Regions from separate parts of the Homo sapiens genome. Here region 2 is linked to region 1. Evidence: fine-mapped expression QTL. A gene starts in region 1. The other region holds a variant in brackets. All regions are shown on one strand. Distances are between the middles of the regions. Region 1 holds the start of DNAH10 (dynein axonemal heavy chain 10). Region 2 overlaps DNAH10 (dynein axonemal heavy chain 10).

The links. PIP is the estimated chance that this variant, and not a neighbour inherited with it, causes the effect. A credible set is the group of variants that fine-mapping cannot tell apart.
Region 2: its variant is the best candidate, but not a certain one, in a credible set for the expression of DNAH10 in coronary artery (GTEx, PIP 0.87).

The regions. Positions count from the first base shown.
Region 1 is chr12:123,758,203-123,766,676 of GRCh38, forward strand. It overlaps DNAH10 (dynein axonemal heavy chain 10), which reads left to right and starts at 4,099. Exons shown (of 79, transcript NM_001372106.1): 1 at 4,099-4,348. The coding sequence starts at 4,135. ATP6V0A2 (ATPase H+ transporting V0 subunit a2) reads left to right here. Exons shown (of 20, transcript NM_012463.4): 20 at 1-3,553. It overlaps LOC105370044 (a long non-coding RNA gene), which reads right to left. Exons shown (of 5, transcript XR_945481.4): 5 at 6,966-7,046. RefSeq lists a silencer at 3,680-4,099.
Region 2 is chr12:123,911,978-123,919,977 of GRCh38, forward strand. It overlaps DNAH10 (dynein axonemal heavy chain 10), which reads left to right. Exons shown (of 79, transcript NM_001372106.1): 60 at 1,121-1,338; 61 at 2,352-2,573; 62 at 2,875-3,022; 63 at 4,480-4,759; 64 at 5,607-5,836; 65 at 6,699-6,972. Among named protein-coding and RNA genes, the nearest start is that of DNAH10OS, 19 kb to the right of the region's middle. RefSeq lists enhancers at 5,131-5,632, 5,804-7,003. The variant G/A (reference allele first, on the strand shown) is at 3,596.

The DNA.
Region 1 (8,474 bases):
AAGTTTACCAATTTGAGATATAAAAATTTCTTTTGGTTTTTTATGATGAGCAAATATAAGTTAATGCCAAACGTTATGTTAAAGTTATTTTTTCAAATACAGGATTTGGGGAGAGAAGCCAATTTTGCATGGCTAGTTGAAAATGGTATTAGATACTTATTTCCTTTAAACTTTATTTAAAACAAACAACAGAGTTAATCTGTCACCTGAAGTTGCCAGATAATATTTTCCAACAGCTGAAGTAGGGATAGTTTTTTAAAAAATTTAATGATGGGTAATCAAAACATTCACATTTATTCTGCTGGATTTAAAAATATGTACTTTTTTTTTTTTTTTGAGATGAAGTCTTGCTGTGTCACGTAGGCTGGAGTGCAATGGCACGATCGTGTCTCATTGCAACTTCCGCCTCCTGGATTCAGGTGATTCTCCTGTCTCAGCCTCCCGAGTAACTGGGATTACAGGCATGCGCCACCGTGACCAGCTAATTTTTTTGTATTTTTGTAGAGATGGGGTTTCACCATGTTGGCCAGGCTGGTCTCGAACTTCTGACCTCAAGTGATCCACCTGCCTCGGCCTCCCTAAGTGCTGGGATTACAGGCGTGAGCCACCATGCCTGGCCAAAATATGCAAATATTTTTTATCCTGTGCTACCTAGAATTACAAGTAGAGGATTGTTTTTACAATTTTGTCTTGTTTTAGTAATTGGGGACAATGGGATAAAATGACATACAACAAATGGTTATCCCACTTGTATATTTTTTTAAAGACTCTTATCCTGTTACCCTTACATAAAACCAGTTATGATAATTGTATGTTTGGAAGATAAATTGTATGCTGAGCCTTAAAACCCAGTGTGACTGTAGAAGATATAATGCGGACATGATTTGAATTTAGTGACAGCTTGGCTGATGTCACTGAACCAGAAGGGTTTATACTGAGTGAAGGAAAGGTAAAAAGTAGTATTTTGTATATTTTTGTAACAAAATATAAATGAAGATATTTTACCATGAAGAGATTGCACTTATCCTTGAGAACAGTCTAAATATAAATGAAGATATTTTACCATGAAGAGATTGCACTTATCCTTGAGAACAGTCTAATGATACTTTTTTTACTTTCAGACTGTTTCTAGCTAAAGTTCTGATAAAAGTATTGAGTTAATTTAAACTTTCAAACACTGTTTAGATCAGTTGAAAACTAATTCTTAATAGCCATTGTTTTATAATCTTTAGTTTAAATTCATCTGTTTGACATTTGGTTTTTTGTGAACTTGAGTCAGTCCTATTGAACATTTTGACCTATATTCTTGCAAATTATGTTAATTTTTCATATTTTAGTTTGATTTTAGACAATTATTTTCAAAAAGAAACCTGACTTTTTTTCACCTTCTTGACATTGTGAGTGATACACGTTAAAAGGCTATTTGCCCGCATCCTCCTCTATCCTGTTTCGAGGTAGAGAGCTTGGCACTTCTGTTACAAGCTGAGAGTCTGGAGGTGCTGAGTTTAACGTGGCTGTGCAGCTGATTTCAAGGCATGAGCTGAACAGCGTTGACACAGCCGTGACTTACAATTAAACCCTTTCAATTACAGTACAGATTCTGTGTGCTACTTGATGAGATGTTACCCAAGGCCAGTTTGGACTTACTGCTTTTTGTCCCTCATATTAAATTATCAAATGATGCCGATGAAATGCTTGAAAATGATTCTGCTCTCAAAGTTATGCTTCCCTAGAAAGGTGTCATGTCGGGCACTTGTGTTGGGTGACTATGACATCCCAGCAGTGCTGGTCAGGTCTCAGAGTTGCTTTCACCTAGAGCTGATGCTTCCACAAGGGGACATTTGTGTTACTTTGCTCCAGGGGTCTGTCATAAAAACAATGGTAACTACTTCATCCCTAGGAAGCCCAAGACTTCAGGGCACTGTTAGCTGATTGGTAAATAAGGGACACGATATTCACGGGAATTGTTTACTGCTCCCCACTAGTAATTCTCATGGGGCCACTTTTTTAACTCTTTCTAATTAACACCTCTTCTCAGCATAGAGCAGAGGATGCAGTCATTTCTCTGTTGAAATCTATGTAGTATTTATGTAGAATGTCATTATATGAAAAGCGAATTCAGAATCCTAACTCTGGGAAAGCGCTCTCTGGAAATGTAGTTTGATAATAGTGTCTTATAGGGGCCACGGGAATTTGTTTCTCTATAAAGCGATGGGCTCCAGTGTCATGTTACCAGAGTTATCGCTCAGTTTTGTTTGTTAAGGCTTTTGCTAGAACCTATTATGTATCCAGTTTTTAAAACATACTTCATTCCCTTGATAGCAGAGATCCAGAGCACAGATGGCAAGTTGTGTGGATGATACTGAATATGTTTATTTTCCTAAAGATAAATGTCACGACACGACATTTCTCAGTTTTTATTTAGATGTTTATTACCATGTGTTAACAGAATCTTAAAACCCAAGGGATTTCTTCAGTAAACTAGACTTTGATTCAACCTGCTGGGCTGGAGACTGTAATTGCCGTGGTCAGTTAAGGAGTGCAAAGGGTGTTCTGTCTGATAGGATCTGGGTGAGCCCTGCGGACTTTCCAGCAGCGAAAGGACTTGGAACTCCTCTTTCGCTGAATGCTGCTCTGTTTCTGGAATGGATATTTTATAACAACATTCTGGTGTCAGCATCCCCTCAGCAGTTGTTTATTTAAAAATTTTTTTATTTTTTTTGAGACAGTGTCTCACTCTGTCACCTAGGCTGAAGTGCAGTGGTGCAGTCTCGGCTCACTGCAACCTCTGCCTCCTGGGTTTAAGCAATTCTCCTGCCCTAGCCTCCCGAGTAGCTGGGATTACAGGCGCCTGCCACAGTGCCCGGCTAATTTTTGTATTTTTAGTAGAGACAGGGTTTCACCATGTTGGCCAGGCTGGTCTCAAACTCCTGACCTCAGGTGATCTACCCACCTTGGCCTCCCAAAGTGCTGGGATTACAGGCGTGAGCCACCGCGCCTGGCCCTCTGCAGTTGTTTAATAAGGCACAGAATACCTGTAGCATAGGTCAGCCTTACGATGTCCATGAATTACATATTCAGACGTTTTAGAGCCTGATACATTTTGGAAAAGAAAAACAACTTCTACACCTATTCTACAGTCCGCATTTAAAACAATAAATTCCTCTATTAAAAACGTAAAGCCGGGTTTGCTTGCGTGCCACAGGGAATATATCCAGGAAGGTTATTATGAAGCTGTCAAATCAAGATGATGGGAATAAGGCAGTTTGAACGAACAGTCTTCCCACAGTCAGGCCATTTTTGCTGATTTGGTTTAGAATTTTCAGAAATACTTAGTACACTCCACCTGTTCTTTGATGGGAATATCTAAGAAGGCTAGGTAGGTTCTTAGGGTTAGCCTGAGTCATCTAGGGGCTCAACTCCTTGTGAGGGGAAATGACAGTGAACAAGTTAGTACTTTGCTCCACAAATGCATGAAAGGACAAATTTGCATCTTCTATCAGTATTTAACTTCCTTTTGCTAATGACAAATAAATATATCTATATTTTTAAACGTGGGTGTTTTGCTTTATTATGCTCTAGTTTGGCAAGAAAGCTAAAGAACTCTGCTCCTTCCCTGATTTTGTAGGCCATGAGGAACTCGTGCTTTCTCGGCTTATTTCCTCCTCGTCTGGCCTCTAATCCCGCCTCTGCCACCGCCGAGGTGCTGTGACCTTCGTCTCGCCAACTCTCTAGCCCCAGCTTCATCTGCAAGGTGGGCGGGCTGCTTGCAAACCGGTCGGCGTGGGGTGGGGTCGCACCCTCGGCTGCAGCGGCCCGAGGGCGGCTCCTGGCGGCGAGGGTCCCGCTCCGCATCCAGGGGCGTGCGCGCTGCCGGGGCCAGGGAGCAACCAGCCTACCTCGGCGGCCCGGGGGCCTGGTGCGCGCCTCCGAGATCCCGGGGCCGGGGCGTGGGCTGCGGCTCGCGGGTTCGGGATCGAGGGGCCGGGCGCGGGGCACTGCCGAGCTTGCAGCCCCCAGCGCCGGCGCCGTCGGCGGGGCGAGCTGCGGCCGTTTCCGGGGCGCCCATTGCTAGGGCCGCCGTTGCCACGGACGCCCGCCCTGCGCCCGGCTCCCTCTGCACTGCGCGGCGCCATGGACGACCTGCGGGTGCTGTGGATGCGCGACCGCGTGTATGCGGCTTTCGGCATCACCGACCCCCAGCTTTTCGAGGACCTGCTCAACCGCGACGACGGCCAGGGCGAGGACCTCATCTTGCACTTCCTCAACCAGGCGAGCGAGGAGGAGGGGCCCTCGGCGCTCTTCATCTACCGCACTATGGTGCCGGAGGAGGTGGAGGTGGAGATTGGTGAGCCTCGACGCGCCGCTCCCTTCCCCGGGCTTCCCTCCTGCCCGTCCCGGCCTCTCCGGCGGGCGCCGGGGCTGCTAGAGCCTGCCCATCGTCCGGCCCCGGCCTCAGGTGCTGTCCACAAACGCTGCCGCCCGCCACGTGCAGGCCCCGGGCGAACCCAGCAATCACAGCCGTCCCTGCCCTCCTGGGCCCACAGCCCACTTGAAAGTCAGGCCTTGATTGAAAAATCACAGCAAACACTGACTTAGCCCGCACCCCGTGCCAGGTGCGGTTCCAACGCTTGTATCAACTCCTTAACCCTACGAGGCGGGTGTATCCTCATCCCTATTTTACAGATGAGCAAACTGGCACGGAGGGGGTTAAGTAACCTGCCCAAGGCCCACGGGGCGTCAAGATCCACTGTGCAATAATCCGAACGGCTGGGTAGAGCCATGCCCAGGTGTGGCAGGGACCCAGGTCACTGTCACTCTCCTTGACGGTCGCAGCCTCTCACGGAGGGTCCGAAGAGCACCCCTTTCTACTTCTGGAGGCTCCTTATATCCTAAAAAGTAAAATAAGGCTAGGACAAAGTTTAAAAACTACAGTAGACTTTAAATGTTTATGTTGAACAAATTAGCATCGCAAATACAAAAAGACAGTGACCAGGGTCCCAGAACCCTCTGTGGAGGCGGATCCCCAGCCCCACCTACTCTCTGATAGGCCAGGGACACTGAGAGGGCAGGGAGGGGCCAGCACAGGTGAGAGGAGGAGGCAGGACAACTCGCTTCAGAAACAGCTAGAAGGAGACTGGGACCTCGAAAGCCGCCTCCTCGCAGGAGCACCAGCTGGAGCACAGCTACCGGGACCTCCTGCCTGGCTGTCCAGTCTCCTGGGCTACTTTTCCAGCCCCTTAAGGACTTGGGGATCCCTTGCAGGGCCTCTCACTGGGTTCGGGTGGCAGGGCCGGCAGACCTTTGATTTTTTTTTTAAAGGTACCAGGCAGATTCATTTATTGTATTCTATTTTTTAACTTTTTTTTTTTTTTTTTTGAGATAGGGTCTCACTTTGTCACCCAGGCTGGAGTGCAGTGGTGCGATCTTGACTCACTGCAACCTCTGCCTCCAGGGCTCAAGTGATTCTCCCACCTCAGCTTCCTGAGTAGCTGGGACTACAGGTATGCGTCACCATGCCTGGCTAATTTTTATATTTTTGGTAGAGACAGGTTTCACCATGTTGCCCAGGGTGGTCTCAAACTACTGAGGTCAAGTGATCCTCCCGCCTCGGCCTCCCAAAGTGCTGGGATTCCAGGTGTTAGCCATCTGGCACCTGGCCACTTCTTTTTTTTTTTTTTGAGACAGAGTCTAGCTCTGTCGCCAAGGCTGGAGTGCAGTGGTGCAATCTCGGCTCACTGCAACCTCCACCTCCCTGGTTCAAGCAATTCTCCTGACTCAGCCTCCCAAGTAGCTGGGATTACAGGCACCCATCACCATGCCTGGCTGATTTTTGTATTTCTAGTAGAGACAGGGTTTCACCATGTTGGCCGGGCTGCTCTTGAACTCCTGACCTAAAGTGATCTGCCCACCTCGGCCTCCCGAAGTGCTGGGATTACAGGTGTGAACCATCGCGCTTGGCCACCTTCATTTATTTTAAATATTCATTATTTGCTTGCACAAAATAAAACGCCTTCATCATAAATCCAAAACCATAAATAAACAACAATAACAAATCCCTAGTGCCATCTGGAGAGAGGACCACGTGATCACGTTTTGGAATTTAACCTTCCAGCCTATTATTTTTTTCTCCCTGGCAGACCTTTGGACCTGAACATTAGATTATAACTGGACCTCGGATGTAGGCACTTTCATTGGCACCAAGTGAAATTATGGAAACCAAAAACACACTCGCAGGATTGACCGTTTAACATGTACCACCACTGCAGGAACTCGGGTTTCGTTTACATTAAAAAAAAATTACAAGACCCTAAAACAATGGATGTGACTTGGATTTCTTGCAGAAGCCCTCCAAGGGCCTCTGTTAACGGTGGGGTGGCTGTTGTCTGCTGTGTTTACTAGCACGTGTTTAGCCCAAATGTCATCCAGTGTGGAAGCAGAGTTCAGTCTCACCTCAGAGGGTCCCCCTGGTTAATTCCTGGACCCTCCAAAGGGAGCTCAGAACTCCCCCACCCCGCCCCCTGACCCGTTTCTGGGCTGTCTCTGTCCCTGGTCTTCCCTTCCATTCCCGTCCCTTCTCCACTATCACCTCATGGTGAAAAGCTGATGGATTCCTCGCCGAAGATGCTGTCTCTGGAAACTCTCAAAGCTGCCGATTCTGGAGGTGCCAGATGGCGTCGGGTGTTGGGGGTTCTGGCCAGGTGGGGAGAAGAGACCTCATCCCCAACTCCACACGTTGTCACTCACTCTCTGCTTGTTAAACCTACAGGCTCATATAACCCTTGAACAGTTTCCCTAGATTATTTTTGGGGGACAGGTGGTTCTGGTCTGTTCAGAGGACCTGCAGAGAGCCCAGCGTGTCCTTTGTTTCCTTTTTTTTCCTCTTTCTGCCCCCCTTCCCCGGTCAAGATTTCTCTCTGCTCCTGGTTAAAAATGATAGGAATGGAGACAAGCAGATACTGGGGCAGGTGGTGGTAATAAAGGCGAGGTGTCCTTCCGGGCAGCAGATACCCAAGATACTGATGCAGTAGGTACATGTGTTCCTTCTGGAAAAAACAAAACGGAATCGTACTGTACATATCATTTAGTAACTTCCTTACATTTAAAGAAATTACACAAATACTGCCATAACACATGTTCTCTTATGAATTCACAGAACATAGAATTACATATAAAAAGAAAAAGCAACGCTTCTCCATCCCTTAAGCCCCAGTCCTGCTCTTATTCCTAGGGGTAACCACTATTATTAGTTTGGTGTGTTTCTGGTTGGCTCTTTTGTCAAATTATCAGTCAATCAATCAGCCAATCACCTACCAACCGACTGATCTGTCTCCCTACCTTCCTATGCATCTATCTATACTTTATCTATCTATCTATCTATCTATCTATCTATCTATACATACCTCTATCTATACATCTATTTATCTATCTCCTGTCTACCTACCTACCTATACATCTATCTCTCTCTATTATCTATCTACCAACTGACCAATCTGTGTGTCTATCTACCTATCATTCACCTATCATCTATCCATCTATCAATTATCTACCAATCTACCTACCTACCTATACATCTATCTATCTCTGTCTATACATCTATCTACCTACCTACCTATACATCTATCTCTATCTATATATCTATCTACCTACCTACCTATACATCTATCTGTCTGTCTCCTGTCTACCTACCTAATTACCTATACATCTATCCCTCTATTATCTACGTGCCAACTGACCAATCTGTGTGTCTGTCTACCTATCACTTACCTATCATCTATCTATCCATCTATCAATTATCTACCAATTTATCTACCTACCTATACATCTATCTCTGTCTATACATCTATCTACACATCTGTTTATCTGTCTATACATCTATCTATACATCTATCTATCTATACATCTGTCTGTCTATCTATCTATACATCTATCTCCTGTCTACCTACCTACCTATACATCTATCTCTCTCTATCTATACATCTATCTATCTATGTACCTACCTACATGTCTGTTTATCTATCTGTCTGTCTGTCTATCTCTGTCTGTCTAGGCATAAGGTCAGGGCTGTTGAGATCAATTAATCAGCCTACCTACCTACCTACCTACCTACCTGCTTGTCATCTATATCTGTCTATCCTTGTTCCATCTACAGTCTATATTTCTCTCTATAATGATAATATATGGATATATAGAGTTCCTAAAACTATAAATATCATACTATATATACATATTATTTTGTGACTTCTCCCCCCACCACATGTTTTGGTTATTTTTTCATGCCAATTCCTATAGTTCTACCTAACTTGATAGATTTAAATACATAGATGTACCACATTCTACTCATCCATTCTCTAATTAATGGACACTTAGCTTTTCAGAGTATTCATTCTACAAACAATGGAATAATGTCTGTCTATCCTTGCATACTTTGTGTATTTCTGGAGGATAGATTTATAAAAATGAAATGCATCTGT
Region 2 (8,000 bases), 150 kb after region 1:
GGTCTGTCCTGGGGGGGGGTCTGTCCTGGGGGGGTCTGTCCTGGGGGGTCTGTCCTGGGGGGGTCTGTCCTGGGGGGGTCTGTCCTGGGGGGGGGTCTGTCCTGGGGGGTCTGTCCTGGGGGGGGGTCTGTCCTGGGGGGGTCTGTCCCGGGGGGGTCTGTCCTGGGGGGGGTCTGTCCTGGGGGGGGTCTGTCCTGGGGGGTCTGTCCTGGGGGGGGTCTGTCCTGGGTGGGTCTGTCCTGGGTGGGTCTGTCCTGGGGGAGTCTGTCCTGGGGCGGTCTGTCCTGGGGGGGGTCTGTCCCGGGGGGGTCTGTCCTGGGGGGGGTCTGTCCTGGGGGGTCTGTCCTGGGTGGGTCTGTCCTGGGGGAGTCTGTCCTGGGGGGGTCTGTCCTGGGGGGTCTGTCCCGGGGGGGTCTGTCCTGGGGGGGGTCTGTCCCGGGGGGGGTCTTTCCCGCAGGGGGTCTGTCCTGGGGGGTCTGTCCTGGGGGGTCTGTCCTGGGGGGGGGTCTGTCCTGGGGGGGTCTGTCCTGGGCACTATAGGATGTTTAGCAGCATCTTCAGCCTCACCCCACTGGATGCCAGCAGCACCCTCCCTCCAAGCTGTGACATCCAGAAATGTCTCCAGACAGTACCAAACGTCCCCTGGGGGACAAAACCTACCGCAGTTGAGAGCAGCGGGGCCAAAGTCACATGAAGATCACAAAATACAAAGAGAATAAGGTTAATTTGATCATTTTGAGTCATATTGTGACCTTGCGCTATAGCTCGGAATTGTATTATTCAGAAAGCTTGGAACCAATAGAAATACTGTTACTGTCTATGGTATATTCTTCTGAGTTTTTGACTTAGAACCACAGTGTCATCTTACGGAGACCTCAGTACATGAAAGTAAAACCATTTGATAACTTGGGTGCTGTGTCTTCTAATGGGACATGGAGTTTTTGCAGCAAACAGTCGAAGAAGAAACTAAGAAGCCACGTGTCTCAACATAGCATATAGAGGCTCTGAAAAGCACAGACACCATTAGAGCAGTTTAGACATGTGGCCTGGTTTGAGGCCATGGGATCGCGGCCCCACCACGGTCCTTTTCCCCATCTTTTTGCAAATTGTCTTCACTTAGGTGGCCAGGCTGGAGCGGAATTTTTACCTCACTAAACGGGAACTGGAAAGGATCCAGAATGAGTTGGCAGCAATTCAGAAAGAGCTGGAAACATTGGGTGCCAAATATGAGGCCGCCATACTGGAAAAGCAGAAGCTGCAGGAAGAAGCCGAGATCATGGAGAGGCGGCTGATTGCCGCAGACAAACTCATCTCGGGTCTGGGGTCAGAAAACATCAGGTTAGCGCTGCTCACGAGCCCACCTGTTGCGGTTTGTAAACGGACGTCACCCACAGAGTTTCTCGCCATGTTGATTCTTTATCTCACGTTGTGTTTTTATGTGAAAACCATGTGACCAGGTCTTATGTTCCTATTATCATGTTTATGGCAGCTAATGGCTATTTTATAGGCTCTTGTTTGTATTAGGCACTGAGTGTTATTTATTAATTACTAAGGGTCAAGGAGGCAGTGCAGCTGTGGAGACGGGGGAATCCATACCATTTAGCAGGGTGCTCTAGGTTTGGGAAGTGTTCACTTCTTGGTGACCTCTAACCCCTGGGTCTTTTCTAGAAGAGTCTGTGGGAGAAGCCCATCTCTGTCACCGCACAGATGCCTTCTAAGGGTCCCAGTGGCTTGTTCAATCCTGGGCTTCAGTCTTAAGTGATGGGGCTGTTTGATATTTATGGGCAAGACCGCTTGGCCACAGCTTATTCACCAAATAGGGCAACAATTTTGAATCTAGCATCTGTAAGTGTGGTGTAGAAAACACTGAAAAATGTTGTTTGCGTGTGGGAAACAATTTTCAGTATTTCTTAAACCTAAGTCTTGGGGCATTTACTGAAAGAGGACAAATGAAACAGACGCTTTCTTTTATCTTGGGTGGAATTCTGTCATTGAGTGAGGCCAGAACTTGTTAGCTCTGCCGGGCTGATTTATATGTCTTTGATTAAGGCTTCAGAAACAACGTGATTACTACTTAATATGATCCACGCAATGTGATTACTGCTTAATAAAGACCACAGGCCTTTACTGAGCCCCCTGCTTGATGCTGGCTCCAAATACCAGGTTCACTAGGGTGGGAAGTTGCAAGATAAGCTGTTGGTCTCTGTTCCTCACAAGGAAAGAATATCTCAAAACATGTTTCCATCTGGCTAGCCCTGTTAGCAAGGTATCAAGCTGGTTCTTCTGGAATGTTCCTTTTGGTTGTGGCCAGAAGGTAAACTCACGGCAGCCTCCCTCTCCTCCCGTGCCAGGTGGCTGAACGACCTGGATGAGCTGATGCACCGGCGCGTGAAGCTGCTGGGGGACTGCCTGCTCTGCGCGGCTTTCCTCAGCTACGAGGGAGCCTTCACCTGGGAGTTCCGTGACGAGATGGTCAATCGGATTTGGCAAAATGACATCCTGGAGCGGGAGATCCCCCTGAGCCAGCCTTTCCGGCTGGAAAGCCTGCTCACGGATGATGTTGAGATCAGCAGGTGTGTGGCACCCTGAGCCAGCAGGAGGGAGGGGACACCTTAGCACAGGGGGTCTACGTGGGTGTCACCCTGGGGGGAGGCAATGGCCTGGGGGGCATCACCAGGACCACAGTTGGCTCGACTGCATGGAAGTGGCCGGGCAAGCTGCAAACCCAGCACGGAGCCCTTCTCCCTGGCCTCTGAGGAGGCTTGTGTGGCCTGGGGATGGGTAGATTGTTCTGGAAGGCCAGTCCTACCACCCTTAGCCCTTGGCTCACAAATTGGTGAGAAAAATTCATTTCCCAATGGCTGTTTCTTCCAGATGGGGATCCCAGGGCCTTCCCCCCGATGAGCTCTCCGTTCAGAATGGCATCCTCACCACCCGGGCCAGCCGCTTCCCTCTGTGTATCGACCCCCAGCAGCAGGCCCTCAACTGGATCAAGAGAAAAGAGGAGAAGAACAATCTGCGGGTATGGTGGCTCCTCCCAGGGCGTCTTCTGCCCCCTATTCCTGTTCTCTGGAGAATGCCCCTCCCGCCTCCTGTACGTGGCAGTCCCTAGCCTCAGCGAGGCTGGGCTGAAATGCTTCCATCCTGACCCCCATGCGGAGCCCTCCCCCGGCTCCGCCTCCGCCTCCACCCCGTGGGTCTGCCAGGGCAGCTCAAACCGCCATGAACTCTGCCTCTCCCCTCGCAGGCTGTGAGCAACCTTAGCTTCGTGTTCCTCTGTCCAGTACGGGGTTCGTGGTCTGGGTGCTCAGTCACTATTTTTTGGAGCTGAGGTGGGGGATGGGGATGCAGGGGAGGAGAGGGGAGAGTAATGGCTTGATTGAGATGTAATTCACATACCACACCTTTCCCCCACTGAAAACATACAATTCAGTTTGAGTTTTAGTATATTTACAGAGTTGTATACCAATCACCAGAGTCAGTCTTAGAACATTTTTATTATCCCTGGAAGAAATGCTACATCCTTTAGCCATCACCCCTCCAGTCCTTCCGTTTCTCCCTCCCCGAGCCCCTGGCAGCCACTCATCTGCTTTCC[G/A]TCTGTGAATGTGCCTCCTCTGGACATTTCTTAGGAATGGACTCAGACGCTGTGTGGCCTTTTGTGTCTGGCGCCTTTCACTCAGCCTGATGTTTTCAAGGTCCGTCCTTGCTGTAGTGCATCAGGGCGTCATTCCTTCCTTGGGCTGAATGATATTCCGGTGTATGAACAGACACATTGTGTTCATCCATCCATTTGCTGAGGGACAGTTGGGTTGTCCTACTTTTTGGCTGTTTGAAGAATGCCGCTGTGAATGTTGGTGCACACGTTTCTATGTGGCCATGTGTTTTCAGTTCTCTTGGGGCGATACCTAGGAATGGAATTGCCGGGGCGGCCCAATCACTTTTTGCTGAGCTAATGAACAAATTAATTATTTTCAATTTAGCTTTTCCTCATTTTTTTCTGGTCCTTGATCTCAGGTATTTGCCTGCTGTTAGAGGAAGCCCATTTGTACTCCAAGGTCAGGGGAACAGTCTGCCTCCAAAATGCACATGGAGCTATCAGGGAGCAAATACTATGAGGGCAGGAACTTTTCTAGACTCCCTCTTCCCTCAGCCTGCCAGGGAGCACTGAAATTGTCAGCCTACCCCTAGTCCAATTCCAACATCTACCCTCTCTCTTAAAGAGGAGGGGTTCTAGCTTACGGGAGAGGGGCTGAGGAATCCCCTTCCTTTCCTCTCTACCCTGTTTGAGCAAGATCCTGCCCTGAGCCTGGACCTCATGGTGTATATGCGTTATACCCCTTGCTTCTCTCTTCTTTTCACCTCTGGCCCCCTCCAAGTTCCTGGCCCATCCACTTCCCACTTCCAAGCCATTCTCCCCTTATATTTGGCAGGGCCACAGTTAAACGTGGGCTTTCAGCATCTGCCTCCCTTCTCTTCCAGGTCGCTTCCTTTAATGACCCTGACTTCCTCAAGCAGCTAGAGATGTCCATAAAGTACGGGACCCCTTTCCTGTTCCGCGATGTTGATGAATACATCGATCCTGTGATTGACAACGTCTTAGAAAAAAATATAAAAGTCTCCCAAGGACGGCAGTTTATTATCCTGGGAGACAAGGAAGTGGACTATGATTCAAATTTCAGACTGTACCTGAACACCAAGCTGGCCAATCCCAGATATTCCCCATCCGTGTTTGGGAAAGCTATGGTGATCAATTACACTGGTAAGAATGTGTAGAACCTCCACTGCTAATTCAGATGGTTATGAGGGAGACCGCAACCTCAGATCAAGGCATTCATGGGACATCATTTCACTCAGTGACCCCAGATCATTCTCTCATAGGCACATCTGGACTAGTCAGCTCTTACCAATTAGGTACCACTTAGAAGGTGTGAGGCCATGAGTCACCTGTCATGAGTCACGCTGAGACGGGGCCGTGGGCTTATGTGTTCACACATGGGGTGGGATGGGACCTCTGACTGTGGGGGCAGGAAGTTACTCTATATTCGTGTATTTAAAATACATGTTGTGATGTTGAATTTTTTTTTTCTTCCTCTCAGTTGAATTCTGATAGAAATGGGATGTTATCTCTTACATTCTCTAGGGCTGTCATGCTCCTGCTTAAATAGGCTAATTTGATTTGGATGTACTTTCTTTTCTTTTTTCTTTTTCTTTTTTTGTACAGATGGGGTTTGTCTGTGTTGTCTGGGCTCAAACTTCTGGGCTCAAGTGATCCTCCTGCCTCTGCCTCCCAAAGTGCTGGGATTACAGGCATGAGCCACTGCGCCCAGTCTGGGTATACTTTAAACTATGGCACCCCAGTCCGTGGAAGCCTGGGTTTTATTTCAGTGTGTTTTTTCCTTTTTATCTGCCACTCTGCACCACAGCATCGCTGTTTTGCTCCTGCCTGCCACCTTGCTGCTCTAGAGTGACTTTGGTGGGCAGTGAATCCTCGTGCCTCTGGCCTGCTGGCTGAGACCCGCGCTAAGCTTGTCCCGTCACAGCAGGGCAGCGGGAGAGACTGTTGTTGGGGGCCGCAGGTGGTGAGGGCCTCTCACTGTCCCCCACAGTCACGCTGAAGGGCCTGGAGGACCAGCTGCTGAGCGTGCTGGTGGCTTACGAGAGGCGGGAGCTGGAGGAGCAGCGGGAGCACCTCATCCAGGAGACCAGCGAGAACAAGAACCTGCTCAAGGACCTGGAAGATTCCCTCCTTCGGGAGCTGGCCACGTCCACGGGGAACATGCTGGACAATGTGGACCTGGTGCACACCCTGGAGGAGACCAAATCCAAGGCAACAGAGGTAGCAACCACAGTGGAAGAGGCCGTGAGTCAGGCGGGGCCTGCATGCGCCGTTGGAGCGTCCATTTCTCTGTCTGCTCAATGAGAAAATGGGGCTCTGTGATCTCAGGGCTAAAAACCCACCTCTATTGGGATGTGCTGTGGGGAGGGGAGCCCTAAAGGTGTTCCCAGGGACCCTTGGGCATCAGGTCAGTCTCTTTAAATCGAGAGTGATAGAAAATCCAGCCCTGCCTGGCTTAAGTCAAAAGGGAAGTTATCAGCTGAGAAAGCAGAAAAGTTCAGAGATGGCCTCAGGTGGGGCTGGATCCAGGACTTCAAAAATACCAGGAGGACCTGGTTTCTGTCCATTTCTGGGCTGGGCCTTCTACTGGGTTGGCGTCATTCTCTGCCAGCTCCCCACATGGTCATAAGACTGGTCTGGCCTCACGTCCTCTCGGGTCCAAACCCAAAGGGGTAAGTGAGAATCTTCCTGTTCCTACCGTGAAGGTCCTGAGAGTCACTTAGGTCACGTTTCTACCCCAAAGCAGCCCTGGGAGCTTGGGGATGCTAGGCTCAGGTTAGCTGGCCCTGGGTCACATCTCCTGGAGTCGGGGTGGAACCCCATATGGGAAGAAAAGGGAGAGGGCAGTACCGGAGACTTACAAGCAGTGTTACTAGGGGAAGGGGCCATGGGTGCAGGGGCGTCAGCCACAAATATTCACCCCTTCCTACAAGAGGGTGGGTGCCCTCGCTCCCCTGCAGTCCCTGGATACTTTCAAAGCCCTGAAGCATTGTACATACCTCTCTGCTGTCCCCCTGCCCCTCCTGCCCTCTGCCCACATCTCAGTCTTCCTGTTTCCAGGGTCACCTGTGCTTTTCTTCAGGTCTCAGAGAAACTCAAGCTGGCGGAGAAGACAGCCTTGGACATCGACAGGCTGCGGGATGGCTACCGGCCAGCAGCCAGGAGGGGGGCCATCCTGTTCTTCGTCCTGTCTGAGATGGCCCTGGTGAACTCCATGTACCAGTACTCCCTGATTGCCTTCTTAGAGGTCTTCAGGCTGTCACTGAAGAAGTCGCTGCCTGATTCCATCCTCATGAAACGCCTGAGGAACATCATGGACACGCTGACCTTCAGCATCTATAACCACGGCTGCACAGGTGAGCTCTCCCCACAGAGGAGGACATGTTAGTGTAGTTTGGTGTGCCAGACGTGGCTTTAAGGAAACGTGATCTGTGAAAATGGAAAGTTACCAAATAGCATTTTTTCTTTTTTCTTTCTTTCTTTCTTTTTCTTTTTTTTTTGAGATAGGGTCTTGCTCCATCACCCAGGCTGGAATGCAGTGGTGCGATCACGGCTCACTGCAACCTCCACCTCCCAGGCTCAGGTGATCCTCCTACCTCAGCCTCCAGAGTAGCTGGGACTAAAGGCACGCCACCACACCCAGCTAAGTTTTTGTATATTTTGTAGAGATGGGGTTTCACTATGTTGCCCAGGCTGGTCTCGAACTCCTGAGCTCAAACGATCCACCCACCTTGGCCTCCTGAAGTGCTGGGATTACGAGGTGTGAGCCATCATGCCCAGCTCCGAATGGCATTCTTGAGTCTGGCGATTCATGTTACAAGAGGAATGTTTAAAGCACTGAATTTTAAGATAGCAGCTTTATTGAGACACAATTTACATACCATAAATTCGTCCTTTAAAAATATACCATTCGGTGGTGATTCATAGCATATACATAGAGTTGTGCAGCTATCACTACTCTCTGGCTCCGGAACGTTTCCACCAGCCCCGAAATGAAATCCCATACCCATTAGCAGTCACCCCCTGGCCCCCCACTCCTAGTCCCTGGCAGTCACCGCTCTGCCTTCCATCTGTAAGGATTTACTTGCTCTGAACACTTCATGTCAATGGCATCATACGGTGTGTGACTTCATGACTGGTATCTTTCACTCCACTCCGTGACCTCACGGTTCATCCGTGTTGCTGCGTGTGTCAGCGCTTCATTCCTGCCTGTGGCTGAGTCACATTCCATGTATGGACAGACCGCACTGTGTTTATCCACCCGTCACCTGATGGGCATTTGGGTTGTTTCGCTTGTTTTGCTATTAAGGCAATGCTCCTGTGAACATTTGTGTGCAGGTTTTTGTGTGAATGTGTGTTTTTAATTCTCTTGGGGGTATATCTA